Homo sapiens: one gene and its partner. The main gene of each other region encodes a partner of the protein of the gene in region 2 in a complex. Links are inferred from orthologs where the notes say so. Each region holds a gene or a part of one and is shown on either strand. Other genes may lie near its edges. The genes, in order: CSK and PAG1.

What was found.
Region 1: the proteins of PAG1 (region 2) and CSK are in contact, whole or in part, in an NMR structure (PDB 2RSY), measured with the Rattus norvegicus proteins. The link is inferred for Homo sapiens from one-to-one orthologs. Residues at the interface, in NP_071589.1 of Rattus norvegicus: Phe291, Ser292, Leu294, Tyr296, Lys297, Ser298, Arg299, Glu300, Glu301, Leu305, Ile310, Met313, Tyr314, Ser315, Ser316, Val317, Asn318, Lys319; in NP_001025210.1 of Rattus norvegicus: Thr88, Arg89, Glu93, Arg107, Ser109, Thr110, Asn111, Tyr112, Thr117, Cys122, Glu123, Lys125, Val126, Glu127, His128, Tyr129, Arg130, Ile140, Asp141, Tyr156, Asp161, Gly162.

What each region holds. Positions count from the first base shown.
Region 1 is NC_000015.10:74,777,297-74,785,168, forward strand, and holds the start of CSK (tyrosine-protein kinase CSK), read left to right. Parts: upstream 1-4,783; 5' UTR 4,784-5,424; intron 5,425-7,138; exon of another isoform or gene 7,139-7,227; intron 7,228-7,872. UniProt on the Homo sapiens protein: Non-receptor tyrosine-protein kinase that plays an important role in the regulation of cell growth, differentiation, migration and immune response.
Region 2 is NC_000008.11:81,108,947-81,116,886, forward strand, and holds the start of PAG1 (phosphoprotein associated with glycosphingolipid-enriched microdomains 1), read right to left. Parts: upstream 3,123-7,940; 5' UTR 2,645-3,122; exon of another isoform or gene 1-2,644. UniProt on the Homo sapiens protein: Negatively regulates TCR (T-cell antigen receptor)-mediated signaling in T-cells and FCER1 (high affinity immunoglobulin epsilon receptor)-mediated signaling in mast cells.

The DNA of each region.
Region 1 (7,872 bases), on a different chromosome or scaffold from region 2:
AGGAGGCGCATTCCTTAAGGGCCTGGTGGGGATGGTGATGACAGGGCCAAAGGACAGCTCCCAAAGCTGGAAAGCCAGCCACTGCGGGGGGCCTGGAGGTGCTGTCAGCAAGGGAAGCTGCCCGGCCCCTCTTGCTAGCAGCCAACTCAGCCTGAGCACCTGCTCTGCAGGAAATAGAAGGGGACTTTGCTGGAAATCTGCCTTTAATCTTGGCTTCCTGTTTTCTGCCCTGGGGGACTGCCCAGACGGTCTGAGTTTCAAGCTATTTCACACCAGCTTCTCTAAACTGTCATCTCTGTGCAAAGAGGCTGGGGGAGGGGAGGAGGCTGGGTGGAGAGAGGAGCGGCCCTTCCCTTCCCAGGGGACCCCATAAGGGTATAAATGCACATACATGTGCATAAGCTCTGGACTGCTGGAGGCCAACCCAACTTTGCATGGAGCTATCCCATTTGGCACTTGTATCATCAAAATGCAGCCAGAAGCTTCTCTCTGGTTCCCCACATCCAGGGGTGGGTCTCCAACCTCTCCTCTCTTCTCCATTCCCCTGGGGCAGGCCCAACAGCCAGGCAAGAGTGGCCCAGCCTCAGAGAGCTAGTGTTCAGTTCCCAACACTGCCTTGACTCCACATTTCACAGGCATCCCAAGCTCATTTTGTCCAAAACCAAACTCCTGAGTGTTCCCCCAGCCTGGCACTCTCCCCAGGTTCTCCCATCTCGCACCATCTCCCCAGGTGCTCCAGCCACACCTGAGGACTGAGGAGTCATGCCTGATTTCTCCTGTGGCCTCACTCCCCACAAACAACCCCTCACGGAGAGCTGCCCTGGGACTTGCCTTTGTCCATTCACTTCCCTATCCCGCTGCTTCCACCAGGGCTAGACCCGTCAGCCCTGGTCCAGGCCATGCAACAGCCTCCTCACTAGGGCTTTGACCTTTGACCTTAACTTTTTTTTTTTTTTTTTCTGGAGTCAGGGTCTCACTCTGTTGCACAGGCTGAAGTTCAGTGGCTCACTGCAGCCTCCATCTTCCCACCCTAAGTGATCCTCCCACCTCAGCCTGGCTGAGATGGGAAGATTGCTAGCTACCAGCACACACCACCATGCCTAGCTAATTAGAAATTTTTTTTTTGTAGAGACAGGGTCTTGCTCTGTTGCCCAGGCTGGTCTCAAACTCCTGGCCTCAAGTGATCCTCTTGCCTCAGCTTCCCAAAGTGCTGGGATCACAGGCGAGAGCCACAGGGCCCAGCCGACCTTCACTCTTTATCATATCACTACCCTGCTTATAAACATCTTTCAATGGCTCCCCATTGCTCATATGATAAAACCTAAACTCCTGTAATAAAAATCTCTGGCCCACAACACCCTATAGAATCTGTCCCTTCCTCAAACACCACTCTCCCCTGCTTGCCGGTCTCATCACCTTGGCCTTCTGGCTGTCCCTTGAGCCACTGAGGCTTTCTGTGCCTCAGGGTCTTTCACTATCTTCCTCCCCACCTGCAATACCCTCCCCCACTCCTCCAACACTGGCCTGGGGCGTGGTGGCTATCGCCCGTAATCCCAGCACTTTGGGAGGCCAAGGTGGGTGGATTATTTGAGGTCAGGAGTTTGAGCCCAGCCTGGCCAACATGGTGAAAACCATCGCTACTAAAAACACAAAAATTAGCTGAACATGGTGGCACACACCTATAGTACCAGCTACGTGGGAGGCTGAGACAGAAGAATGGTTGAATGCCAGAGCGGGAGGTTGTGGTGAGCCGAGATCATGCCACTGCACTCCAGCCTGGGCAACAGAACAAGACTCCGTCTCAAAACAAACAAACAAAAAACAAAACAAAACAAAACAAAAACTTACTAAGACAGTTGTAGATAAAGGCAGATTTATTAGAAAAAGTAGGAAAATACATTGCAAGAAGGCAGAAGAGAAGCTGACTGCCAGGAAACAAAAGGTTGTTGGAGATTTTATAGAATTAGTGTTATGCTATCTGTTGAGGAGGTTTTTGTGCAGTATCAAACGCCAAGGGTACAGTGAGCTAACTTGCCAAGGGTACAGTGAGCTAACTTGCAGGAGTCTGGTGATAGTCGGGCACAGGAAGATTGTGAATTATTTGCACAGGAGAGCTATATGTCCTAGACATGAAGAAAGGCAGACTCACAGCTTATCTAATTTCTCTTTTTGCTTTCCCTTGCTCCCACCGACCAGATTCCCTTTCCCTAATTAGCACTTCCCACCTAGCACTTAGTAGGTGCTCAATAAGCATTTGTTTTTTTGTTTTGTTTTGTTTTGTTTTGTTTTTTTGAGACAGAGTCTCGCTCTATTGCCCAAGCTGGAGTGCCGTGGCGTGATCTCGGCTCACTGCAAGCTCCGCCTCCTGGGTTCACACCATTCTTCTGCTTCAGCCTCCCCAGTAGCTGGGACTACAGGCACCCGCCACCACGCCCAGCTAATTTTTTGTATTTTTAGTAGAGACAGGGTTTCACCATGTTAGCCAGGATGGTCTCGATCTCCTGACCTTGTGATCTGCCTGCTTCGGCCTCCCAAAGTGCTGGGATTATAGGTGTGAGCCACGGCGCCCAGCCCAATAATTCCACCAGAGGACAGGTCTGTGGGAGTGGGGCCCTTTATCGATTTGTTTATGGTTTTATCCCCAGTGCCTGGAGTACAGGAAGATTAAAAAATTTATTTCACTTTGCTGAGAAGAGGTGGAGCCAGGATTCAAATGCTGGTCTATTTGACTCCAAAGTTCACAGCTGGGCCACAGCACACCCAGGGGAAAAAGTCAAGTGCATTTGGGGATAAAGAAAGGTTGGTGACAAAACTGGAACAGGGATTAGAGTATTTTCCCCAAATCCCCAGTCTTTTCTTTCCCATTCTGCTAGCTGATTCAGCCAGGGGAGGGGAGATGTCAATTTCTCCCTCCCAGAAGGCTTTGCAGAGCTGCTGAAGTGCTTTCTTGTAGGCTGAGAGGCGGCCCCCCATCCGGCCCCATATTATCATTCCATCTTGACCTCAGAGGAAAGAAAGGGAAACCAGCTCTGCTGAGCACCCTTTCCACTCCCTCACCCCCAGGCCGTTATCTTGCTGAATCTGCACTATCTATCATGAGAGAAGTATATTTTGAGCCTGATCTTACAAAAGAGGAAACAGCTCAGAGACCTTAGGTAACTAGCCCTAAGTCACACAGCTAGTAAGTGGACGGGTTGAAATTTAACTTGGAGACTTGAACCCCAAATTCATCTTTTTTCTGTTACACCACACCTATCTCTGAAACTTACTGGCTGTCTCCTCAAAGGACATCCCTCTCCAAAGGGCTGGCTCCAGCTGGGAAACCGGCCTAAGGGTGCCCTGGGTCAGAGGGCCGACCTGTGGTTTTGGGGGCAACTCCTCCTGGCATCCGAGGCTCTTTAAAACAATCTGCAGCCACACTGTCTCCCAGCTCCGTCTCCCACAGGGCTGTTTGCCCTCTTCTCGCTCCCTCGGGCCTCTTCATGCTTATTTTGTGTTCCAAGACTTTGTCAGCATGCCCCACTTCCTCCCCCCCAACCCCAAGAGTGCCTCTTCCCTCTGTCCACCCAAGCCTGACCCTTGCTTCAGGGTCTAGTCCCTAGAAAGTCCCCCACCTTTACCTCCTCCCTACGCTGGAGTCTCTGGTCTCGCCCTCATCACTGTATCCCCATTCTGTTCCCCGGTCTCACCCTCATCACTGCATCCCCATTCTGTTCCCCCGCCACCCTGCACTCTCCCACCCCTGTCATGCCTGAGCACGCTGTCCTCTCCTGTGGCTCAGAGCAGGTCATCTCCCTGCTTTTCGTTAACAGTGATGTAACAGCCCTTGCTTAACGGAGGGCTCCTCACGTGCCAGCTACTGCATACTAAGCACTTTAAACGTATTAACTCATTTCCTCCCCTCCCCACAAAAACTTAAGAAGTCGGTGCCATTATATATCACCTATTTTACCAAATGGGGAAACTAAAGCACAGAGAGGTTAAGTAACTTGCCCAAGGTCACAGAGCTGCTGACAACTTCTTTATTGCCTCCAGGCTGAACATAAACTCCAAGAAAGTCCCATGAGGCTCTTTGGATCTCTTTTGCCCCTGTTGTTTGCAGGAACCCATCTCCCACCACTCTCCCCCACCCACACTGCAAGCGGCAGCCGCCTGAGCTATATTTAGATCCCAGAAGCCACCAAGCTCCCTCCGCACTCCCCGCCCTTGTGCATGCTGTTCCCTCTGCCTGGTCCCGGCTCTGTGAGGTGTGAGGTCTCCCCGTTAGCCCTAGTTTTCTTTCTGCCTCCTGGGAACCGTGTCCACCACCTCTCCACTTTGATCAATTATTTCCTTGCCGTTGTCTGTCGGCCTGTCAGCCTACCCCCACCCGACCGAGAACGCCTTGACGGTAGTGAAATGGTCTTGCCAATAGACTCCAGAGCAGGCTCCGCCACGATGTCAGCGCCAGGAAATGTTGGTGAATGAATGAATGAAGGCTTTCTGCTGCGAATCAGGCCCACTCTCCACAAACAGACCTGAGGAGAGGGGCCCAGGCCCGGCCCCCAGCGCTTCTGCAGCGGGAAAGCTGCGTCCAGAGAAGGCTGGGAGGTTGCTCCCAGGCCGGCTGAGGAGAGACCCTCGGAGCCTTCAACGCAGCCAGGCGGCAAGTGGGGGCAGGGCGTGGGCGCGGACACACCCCCCGCAGTGCCCCCGGCGCCCGGCAGGGGGCGCCGCCCCGCCGGCCCACGCCCCGCCGCGCGCCGGGCAGGCCCCCTCGCGCAGGCGCGCTGCCGCGGGCGGAGGATCCGGGCCGCGCTTCCTCTCGCCAGGCCTGCGAGCTTCCTCCCAGCGGAGCCCTGGGCGAGCCGAGGTTGGCCGCCGCCGCCGCCGAGCCCGCTGCCGCCCTCCCGCTCCTGCCCCACCCGCGCCTTGCCCGGGGGCTTCTGCCGGGGTGGGGTCCGAGCCGGGCGACCGCCCGGCTGCGCCGCCGTCGGGGCCGTAACCCGGCCCGCCGTCCCTCCCGCCCCAGCCAGCCTCTGGCCGCCGGAGCCCGCGGGGCGTGGAGCGCGAGGAGCCCCGCGGCCCCGATCGAGCGTCCGGGGCGGCCCCCGGCAGCCAGCGCGACGTTCCAAAATCGAACCTCAGTGGCGGCGCTCGGAAGCGGAACTCTGCCGGGGCCGCGCCGGCTACATTGTTTCCTCCCCCCGACTCCCTCCCGCCCCCTTCCCCCGCCTTTCTTCCCTCCGCGACCCGGGCCGTGCGTCCGTCCCCCTGCCTCTGCCTGGCGGTCCCTCCTCCCCTCTCCTTGCACCCATACCTCTTTGTACCGCACCCCCTGGGGACCCCTGCGCCCCTCCCCTCCCCCCTGACCGCATGGACCGTCCCGCAGGCCGCTGATGCCGCCCGCGGCGAGGTGGCCCGGACCGCAGTGCCCCAAGAGAGGTGAGTGCCTGGCCGTCCCGGAGTGTCCCCTGGAGGGAAGAGGGTGGAGGTCGCGCGTCTAGTCTCTGTTGCTGCCACTGTCGCGTCCACTCCCATTCCCCTCTTCTCCCACTTCTCCCTTCTCTCCTTTACTCCCTTGCACGGGTTCGAATTCTCCCAGGAGCCACTGTCAGAACCCAAATTGGAAGGGAGTGCATGAGGGAGGTACTGCCCTGCAGCTCCACGGACTCGTCTTCTCGGGTCATCCCGAGTCCCCCCCTCTGTGGAGCTCAGAGTAGGAGGTGGCTGGAGTCTGGAGGAAGAGGATCCGTATGGGCCAGGTCCCTAGAGAGAGTGCTGGACTCCCCTGCCCTTCCCTGTACAGGGCCTCCCCGCAGGTGCCCTGGCTTGCTTGGTTCTGACCCCTCCCTCATTACCCCACCATGACCCTGCGGGCTGCAAGCAAGCCCAGGGCCCAGCCACCTCGGGTGAGCAGTTAGAAGCCCAGGTCCTAGGACTGAGCCTGTCACCCTTGGCCTCTCAGAAGACCAGGCCTAAGCCAAGGGATCTTTGGGTGGGAAACTGGGCAGGCCTTCTGCCCGGGGGGAGGTAACGGAGCATTAGCACCATGCCCCCACCTTCTGGCACCCTGGGCAGCCCATTCTCCTAGGCTCTTTGTGGCCCAGACCAGGTGTCAGGAAGGGGTGTGTCCAGCCAGCAGATTTTTTGGAGCTTAACTACCAGTTCACTTCCCCGCCCATTTTGTACACCCGGGAACCGAGGCTCAAAGGGAGAAGTTGCTACCCCAGGCCTCTAGTGGAGTTAGGCTGGCTGTCCTTTCATCCCCAGCTATACAGGGCTGGATGGCTGTGGGTGGAAGGAAACCAGGCAGGCACCTTCACCCACTGGGGACACAGGCCCCCAGCCCGGCCCCAGAGGGACCTTGTTGGTTGAGCACGTGCTTCCCTGCAGAGGGCTGGAGGGAGTGAAAGGGCTTCCGGCTCCAGCTGTGGCTGGGTCAGCTAGCAGGAGATGTGGGGAATGTGTGGTGTATGGCCATCTGTGTGGTGTGGCAGGAAGGTCCGGTCCTGGCCCCGGCTCTGAGTTGAAACAACCTGGTGGTCAGTCCTGACCCAGCACTCGCCACACCTATGGCCCAGCTGGCACAGGAGCAGCCAAGTTCAGGATATAAATGGGGTCACATGGGAACCGTGGAAGCTCTGTCTCCACTGGCAGCAGGCTACAGACTGGGGACATGGGAGCATTGTGAGAGTGGGGACACCCAGGGGGCCTGTTTCAAGCTCCTAGTACCCTGGCGGTTCCAGTGTCTTTCTTGGTTGTGGCCACAGCAGGAACAGGGCAAGGACAGCAGGGGTGAGGTTGAGGCCTGGCAGGATCCTCTGGCCCAGGAGAGCAGGCATTGCCCTGGTGGGTGCTGAGCAGTGTCTGGGCTCCCTTGGAGCTGCTGGCAGTTTTGTCCTGCTGGGTCCCTGCTCACGATTTAGGGTTTTTTTGTTTTTTCACTTTTTTTTCTGGCTGTCCTGACATGCACAGTGGAGGGGACCCAGATGTCCTGGGCCTGTGAGACTCCCCTCACATGGCCCCACACCCAGCCCTAACTTCCTTTCCAGCCTGAGGGACTGGGGCTGGAGCCTGACATGGTTAGCTCCCTCCCACCCCAGTCAGCCTTTTTAATTTTTATTTTATTTTATTTTATTTTTTTACCAACTGTGAGCTGTGAAGGTGTGATCCAGGGTCCCAGGGCCTTTGAAGAAAGGAGTCTGGCTTCTGGCTGGCACGTGTGCAGGGATGTGCTTTTCATTGGTGAGCTTGGTGCCCTCCACCCTCTCAGAAGCAGCTGCTCTTCTCTCTGCATTGGGTCAGGGGCAAGGAAAAAGCAGAAAATGTTCCCATTCACCACCGCAGGGGGGCCAGACCCCAAAAGGCTGAGCCACACAGAGTGGCCCTCGGCAAGGGTTGGAAATTTCGGGGACAGAATGCAGCTTCCTCCAAACAAGTATAGGTAGGGGTTGAGACCCAGGATCCACAGTGTGACATGGCTGCCCCCCAAAGGGGGCAGACCCACCTGGGTGCGGTTCTGGGCTCCATCTTTTGAAGGATTTTAAAACCTTGACAGGTCATCTTCAAAGAGCCAGGGATGTTGACTGAGTCTGGGAAAGAGAAAGTAGGGACAGATTCTCATATGTCTGAGGGACTGTCCCAAATGAGAAAGGCATCCCATGGCAGAAATTGTCCCAGACACGTGGGCCAGAGCTAGGGAGCAGGTGGGTCCCAGGGAAGTGAATCTGAGCTCATTATAGGGAAACCATGAATGTACTCATTTTCTTGATTTAGAAAATAACAAAACAGCGCTACAGGAAATTTAGAAAATGAAACAAAAATCACCCACTATTTCTTCAGCAGGCAGTGACTGTGTTAGCATTTTGGAGTTCACTGCCAGTCTTTTCC
Region 2 (7,940 bases):
ACGCTGTTTGTGGATTGATTACTGCTGCCGTGGTGGTTTCCTTGACTGTGTAGATTGCTGCAGCTACACGTGCAGGCAGGAAACCAAATGGAGACCACCACCCTCCAGTGTAAACTCTAACATCACACCAATTTTTCTTTTTTGACTCTCTGAATGCATGAATAGAAAAATAATAAAGCAACAGAATCCACTTCAAATTGAAAGACCTGGCACCTCTACCACACATTAGGAGGTATGGAAGCATGGGCAAGTTATTTAACAATAATTATGATCATTTCTGTTGTGGGTGCTGTTAAGCACTTTGCATACTTTAATCCTTAAGCTTAGATTTCTTCATGTATAAATTGAGGATAATAATGCAACTACTTCATTTGCAAGTTGAGGCAGCAGGGTCAAAAAGAACACAGTTTCAACACAGACAGACGTGGGTTAAATGCCAGCTCCAATTTCTACTATTTGATCTCACTGAGCTCCCATTTTCTCATCTCTAAAGTAGAGATGAAGCCACTTACCTCAAAGGACTGTGGTGGGGAATTGAGCAAGACAGTGTTAAATACCAGTTGGTGTCTGTATCGCTAGACAGTGCACAATAAATGTTTATACCTTCTCTCCTATTATACACATGAACTGCTTCTGTTAATATTCATCAGCAGCAATTCAATGTCCATAGCAGCAATTCAATGTCCATAGAGTCCAAAGATGCATTTCCTTTCATAACAATGAAAATTTTTCCCAGAACAAGCTTAATATGCCAGATACTGGCCCAACAGCTCTATGTCTATGAACTCATTTAATTCTCACTACTGTTCAGTGGGGTAGGTACTACTACTGTCATCCCCATTGTACAGATGAAGACACTGAGGCACAGACTTTGGGTTACTTGCCTAGATTCAAACAGATGGTACCAGAGCTGGCAGCCTGGCTCCATAGCCTGTCCTCCTAACCAGGCTGCAATAGGGCTTAATGGGTCAATCTGTTTGAGATTCCATGCTTGGATGTAATCTCTTCTAGAGATAAGCACTGGATGCTCTCACAAACCGCAATGTGTTGATGTGACTAACTTTTCAACTTCTGAAATAACATTTTGTGTATTTTCTTAGTATTCCTAAAAAAAAACCCTTTACACTTTAAATAAGGTGCCTATAACTAGTTCATCTTGTTCTGCATGCTGAAATACCATAAATAAATGCACTTCTCTCTTCAAAGATTATGTAAATAAATCTTACATTAAAACATACCCCTGAGCTTTGGTTTAAACAATAATTTCAAGTCCAAATTAAACATTTATGTATGTGTATATATATTTAGCAGGAAAGTCTTAATATGACCTATTTTGTTAAACTAATGACATCTATACCCAATACTCCAAATATTCCTCTTATTTATAATATTCGCTGTGTAACAGTCACACAGCAGTACTGCATGGTACTTCAAAGTACTATTCCTTTTACAAGTTTAACCAACTCAGGTATTAAACATCAATGATGATAATCCATAGCTCTGCTTAAAAGGAATCTCTCGGGAACAGCTGAGAAAGAAAGGTTAAAGATTTCTATCCTTCAAAGTAGGGCACTGCAGCTACCTATAAATCATGCTCTTTGTTTATTAAGATAATTAGGCCCATCAGTACACTTAACTTTTAGACTCAACAATTGTCTGGCATGAACAATTTCCACTTTTTCTAAAACAAAGGGGATGTGTTCAAAAAGCGGTCCTCTGCATGCTCTCTGCACAATGCATGCTATTTTAAAACATGATTTATGGGTCTAATTCCTGGAGCTGCCTTGAAAAATATAGTGGGTTGTTCCTCCCATGCTCCCTATTAGGAGAAGACACTCCAATTTGAAGAGTGCACTCTGTTTCAGACTTCAGGCCGCTATATCATGTCAGCATTTTCAGTAAATACTGTTCAATTGGACTTTAAACAAATGGAATGGAGGGCCACAGCTGCAGCCACTGCAGAGATAAAGTTATCCAGCCGGGAGGCTTACATAAGAGGTGCAGGACAATCAGGGTGAAATCCAAGTGTCATTATCTGAATCCTATTTCTTGAGACTTGCCTACATTCTTAAAGTGTATGAATTCACACGCCCAGAGCTCGTTTTATTTGCCTTAGGGCATAAAACACCGGGTCGACATATAAGTTGTTTTTTCCCTAAAGGACTAGGCTCCAATTATGAAAAGGTTGGCAACTTCTGCCTAGGGGAAGAGTAAAGCGGGATGCGCGGGAAGCCTGCAGGCCTGAAAGAAATGGCTCGCCCAAAGATCCATCGCAGTGCTGGCCACACTCCCCAGAGGAATTAGGATGGAGGTGACAAGACCCTGCCCAGCCCCTTCACCCCAACGTAAACACAGAGTCAAGGAGCTTGGAATGAATAATTAGCACGCAGCAGTCGAAATGCCCTAGGAGTACCTGTCCTCTCCCAGCATATTTCCAACTGGCACATTCGTGAGATGCTGAGGTCAGCCAGCCCTGGACTCCAGACCTTCCAGCTGCCTTGTCCCCTTCTTGGCACCCCGCACTCCCTCCTCGAGCTGGAACTCTGTTAACAAGAGGTGCCACCCTCGGCTTCCCACAAGAAGATAAAAACGAACCTCTCCTTCCCACGGCTCCCTCCAACTTCAGAAACTACAGTCAACTTACTGGGACTCAGGAGGCAGGGAGTCTTCCTGGCGGACGGCGCTCGGAGGCAGCCTCTGCAAACTCCGGCGCGCAGCGCCGCCGCCCCGGCACAGCCCGGCAGCAGCGGCAAGTGCAGGACCAGGCGCCGCCGCTCTGCACCAGTCGCCTTGGCTCAGCTGTGCCGGGCGCCGGGCATTCGCCAGGGCACACGACTCAGCGAGGCGGCGGCTGGGACTGAGGCTACTGCACCCGGCCGCGCGGACCCGAGCGCTGCAGCTGCCTCCAGCCCCGGAGCGCGGCGCTCCGAGCCCCTGGTGGGTGTCTCTGGCTCCAAGGGAATCACGGCTCAATTAGGGACCTGCCAGGAGAAAAACCGATGCGCTGCCGCAGGCAGAGCCGCCAGCCCGCCCCCAGTCGGCTGGTCACATCGCGGGCGCGCAGACGGACAAGCGAGCGGGAGGGTACCGCAGCCAGCACTCGCCGCCGCGCCGCGGAGAATGACAGGCGCCGAGGCGGAGCAGCCGCGCGGGGAGCGGGGCGCGAGTGCGCATGATCCTGGCCGCAGCGGCACGTCACGGGGGAGGAGGGGCGGGCCGCGGGGCGGGAGGGGGCGAGCCGGGCGGGGCCGGGCTGGGGGTGCACACGGGTGAGGACCGGCGCGGGGCCTGGCTTGCTCGCGGGAGGATGCAGGAAGTCTTCCCTGCCCTGATTTTATGAACCCAAAGCTCTGTGGTTGAACTTGTCCCAGGAGCCCATTGTCCTTTAAACAGCACCGTTTAAGCGGTCCTTAAGGTCCCTGGGGAGCCCACAAAAGCCAATTTAATTCAGGTTACAGCTTAACCGTAAAGGGTTGCCATTTGGGGGACAGTGATCTTCTATTGTGGCTGTGCATTAAAATAACTTGGGGAGCTTGTAAGAACCCTTTGCCCCGGACGCATCCCAGAACAAGTACAGGACAATGTCTGGGTGGGGCCCACCCAGGTATCAGTAGGTATCTAAAGATACCAAGGTACAGCAGTGCTTCTCAAACCCTCAGTGTGTGACAGAATCTCCTGCGGATTGTGATGAGATGCAAGATTCAGATTCAGTAGGCCTGGGATAATGAGGGAGACATCCTTTCTAACAAGCTCTCGGAGGATGCCAATACTGGAGGTCCAGACCCCCATCCTTGCTACTTAACGTGTGATCTAGAGCCTGGAGCAGAGCTTCTGAAACAGTTGGCCTGTCTGACAGTCACCCGAGGGGCTTATAAAAAACGCAGAACAAATGCCCAGGCCGTACCCCCAGTGATAGTGGTTCTGGCTCAGCCCCTGGCAAAGGTGGGCTTCTAGAATTCCATTTGGCATCAACACTCTAAATAAATCTGATAGGGGTTTTGTTTGGGCCAAACTTCAAGTTTACACTAGCAACCTGGAATTGGGAATAAACTTTTGCACTTACAAGGAGACAAACCAAGTCTAGAACTCAGGACATCTGACTTTGAGTCAGGGATTCTAAACCAACGGGTGCTTTATCTGACTAGTCCCAATTTTCTAAAATTATGATGCATTACTTAGCAAGAAAAAACATATAAATGGCATTAAATATACACACACACACTCTATTGAACACTCGTTACACATATCATTAATGGGAGCTTAAAGGTGGCTGGGGAAGAAGGCTCATCAGGAGAGGGTAAGGAAGACAGTGATGGAGTAAGGGATGTTGTTAGTGTGTCGCAGAGGGAAGGGTATGTGGGAGGAAACAGTTTAGACTCAGCCTACAGCTTGGAAAAGCCCATTGGGGAAGCGGACCCAGGAACCAGACTTGGCCTCTTGCTTCAGAGCATGGTATGAAACTCAGGTGTTTAAGAACTTATGGAGTATAACATTTCACATACGTTACCTCACTGAAATTTCACAGTGGTCTCTTAAGTTGAATAATAATATAAAAAAGTATCCCCATTTTATATATTAAAGAAGACATCCTGGACATGAGTTGACTAATGGTGGAACTTGAATAAAAGTAGGGATCTCCGTGTTGGACTTGGCTTCTACAACTCTGGAGAAGAGGACAATTTAGACCTTATAAAGCAAATGGTTTCTGTGTTTACTAGTCACATCTTTTACAGGCTGTGCCTAAATTTGGAGTTAGGAAGGCTTTCATTCTTGTGGGGAGGAAATACATTTTGTGTCTTCCAGTTTTGCTACACTTGTTAGGATACACTTAGAACAAAATGTTCTAAGAGCAACCCGGTCCTAGGACATTGCAGTTCCACAGTGCAGGCTTCATTGAGGAGTTTGAAGGGCAATATTCACGTTATCTGGTGACAAGTGTAATTACCATCCTCATTTTACCCAGGCTCAGAAGCTAAGTGATTTAGACAAATTCACGAATGCAGGCAGGAGCCAATCTCTAGCCTCTGTCCTTTTCCTCTGCTCTCTTTTCACCAAGTAACATGCTGAGGATTGTTTTTCATTTCCAAATTTTTCATATCAGGATTTGCCATCAGTAAATTGGAACTCAAATGTATTTCAAAGCCACTCCTAGATAGAGAACCAAAAGTGTCAGGATCAATTCTTGTGCTTGTGGTAGATGCTATGGGCTATACTCTCGGTCTGAGTAATGTTTTGGAAGCAAGTATGTGATAGTTATATACAGTCTTCTAATCCAGAGGTTTGACTGGGAATGCTACACTGCCAACTGTGGTCTACCTGCCTTTATCTTTACTTCTTATCTAACTCTTCCATTACAGCCATTCTTCGGTGTGATTATGAAATTAATTCCTAAGAAAAAAGAATTCTTTGAAGGAGCTGGTACATCACAGGTTGTAAAACTTACTTCAGTTTTTAATAAGAAATATATATATATTTTAAATATGAAGGTAGCAGAATAGTCATGTTGGGACCTTTAGAAGAACCCAAAGTTGTCATTGTTTTCTTAGGTGCCCGACATTTCAATCAAAATATTTACATAATTCATTTGTATATTGATTTCAAGAGATCCAAGATTTAATTAAATAAAAAGTTACTATTAATTGGTGTGTCCTACTGCTATTGAATTTTGAACCATTGTTATTGGCATTAAATACATGAAATATATAATATTGTCTTGATACTATATTGACTGTGCTTTAATATTGACTGTGTCTTGATATTGACTGTGTCTGTATTTAGAATTTATTTCACATCAGCTGCTATTGATTGTCTGGCAGAAATCGCAGCTACATCTTTTTCTCTGAGGTCTGTATTCCTTATGGGTCAGCAAGGCCTACTCTTTGGCTGAGAATTCCTTCCTTCAATGCCTCTAAAAGTCCTAGTAGTGAGATATTCAATTATATAGACACTAATGACTCCACTGAAACTATTCTTCCCTCATGCAGAAACTGTACCTAGGATAGATTTTTATTAAAGTCTTTCTGCTAAAAATCACAGGCTTACCAACTGAGCTGGAAAGCTTAGGCTCAAAAATTCTCCACCTTTATTAATTACATTTCTTCATCCATTTCACTCAAAGGGATTCTTTGACATGAAAATCTTCACTTACTTCATAGACACAGTCCAGATAAGAGAACTGTGGGGAGTCCAAGGTGACTAGCAAGAGTGAGACAGTTGGGAGGAAGGAATTAGATGCCACTTGGTGAAAAATAAGCTTGCCATAAAAATTAATACAAGTTGTGCTTGATTTGTGGACATGGCTTATTACAAAGTTTGCCTTGTTTGAACACATGCAGCAGCTGATAACTTCACTGGAAACCATCACTGAATCCCTGGTGTAGATGGGATTGGGGGAGATTAGGGTCCTGTCTTCTTTCCCGAGAAACTTTAGAAAAGTATTAGAAAGCCCAATTCTTGCCCTAATGCAGGAAACTTACGACGTGCCTGCATTGTAAATGTTCATGTCTAAGTTATCTCACTTACAATTTAGAGCAGTCAATATAATAAATAATCAGGATTTTCAGGCTAGCTCCATAATGTTTTTTAAGTCTCTATTAACAACAAAAAAAGCTAATAGAGTGTTAATTATAACCCTGAACCTGAGAAGAAATAGGTGATGGGTAGGGATGTTGGGCTAAGGCAGGAATGGGGTCGGGGGCTGGGACAGGATGGAATTTAGGGATGGAAGAAGGAAGGCAGGAAGTGGCCTTTGGTTGCTGAGGAGCAAAGGCTGGTGGAGACTGAGTATCAGCAGCTTCTGAGATAAGACTGGGCAATGGCCTGTGAGCAAGATTAGAGAGCAAGCAATCAAGACTCTGCTGGCAACTCACAGCTTACCTGAACTTAAAGTGCTGAGGATTCCACGTGTGACTTTGTCTATAGGAAAGAGGGATCAGAGGTTAAGAAATAGATTATAAATTCCTTAAAACCCATGATAGATGCTTTAAAGAACTACTACAAAATATACCCTCAATTTCAATCTCTAAGAGTTACTTTTTCCTCCCTCCCAACCAAATTGCCCACTAATAAAAGGAGAGAGCAGCTGGGGGAGAGGCCATGCTGCACAGTGCGAACCTCACAGGCTGTCTGGCCCCCACTCCCAGCATCTCCATCCATCAGCTGTAATCACGTGACTGCCATCTTTGATTACCTAATACACAGTAACAAGAGCTTCAAGCACATATTAGGTTCCGAATATGCTAGCTATTAGTGGTGGGCTTTACAAAATCTCTCCTAGAGTTAAAATCTGAAACTAGACATCTCTTAGTGTCTATTTTATCATTTTAATGTAAACCATGATGAACTGTAGTTTTTAAGAGAGTACTTTCCTTCTCCATCAGAAGACTTAAGAGTGACTTTAGGGCTCCTCTGAGGACAGGAGAATCGTGTAGAAAAGGCTTTCAAGGGAGATCAGGGCAAAACCTACTAATGTAGCTCTGCAGCCTCACACTATACTGTAGAGGAAAAGTCAAGGCTTAAGGACTTGACATTTTCATATCTTTCTACCGGGAGAAAGAAATTATGGTGGCAAGAGACAGTAGCTATAAAAGTGAAAATAGAGTGCTTTAAAGAAATGCCTTTATATTACAGATTTGAGAATGGACATTTCCATTGTCCTTTGTCATCCTGACCTTACACATTCCTTAAAGTTCTATCCTGACATCAACACTCAAGATGTGTGCCTGTAAAACTGATGTAGATACTCAGAATGTTGGTAGAGATTCCTTAAGCTCACTTTTAATTCTTCTGCCTTTATCACTTCAATATAATACAATTTTTATAAACATATTTTAAGCAGGCATCAGAGAAAACTGCGTGTTTCCTTAGTAGCCAACCAGTTGCCTGCCAGCAAGCAAAACTTCAGCATTGAGAAAGGAAGATTTTGAAATTCAATTCCAAAA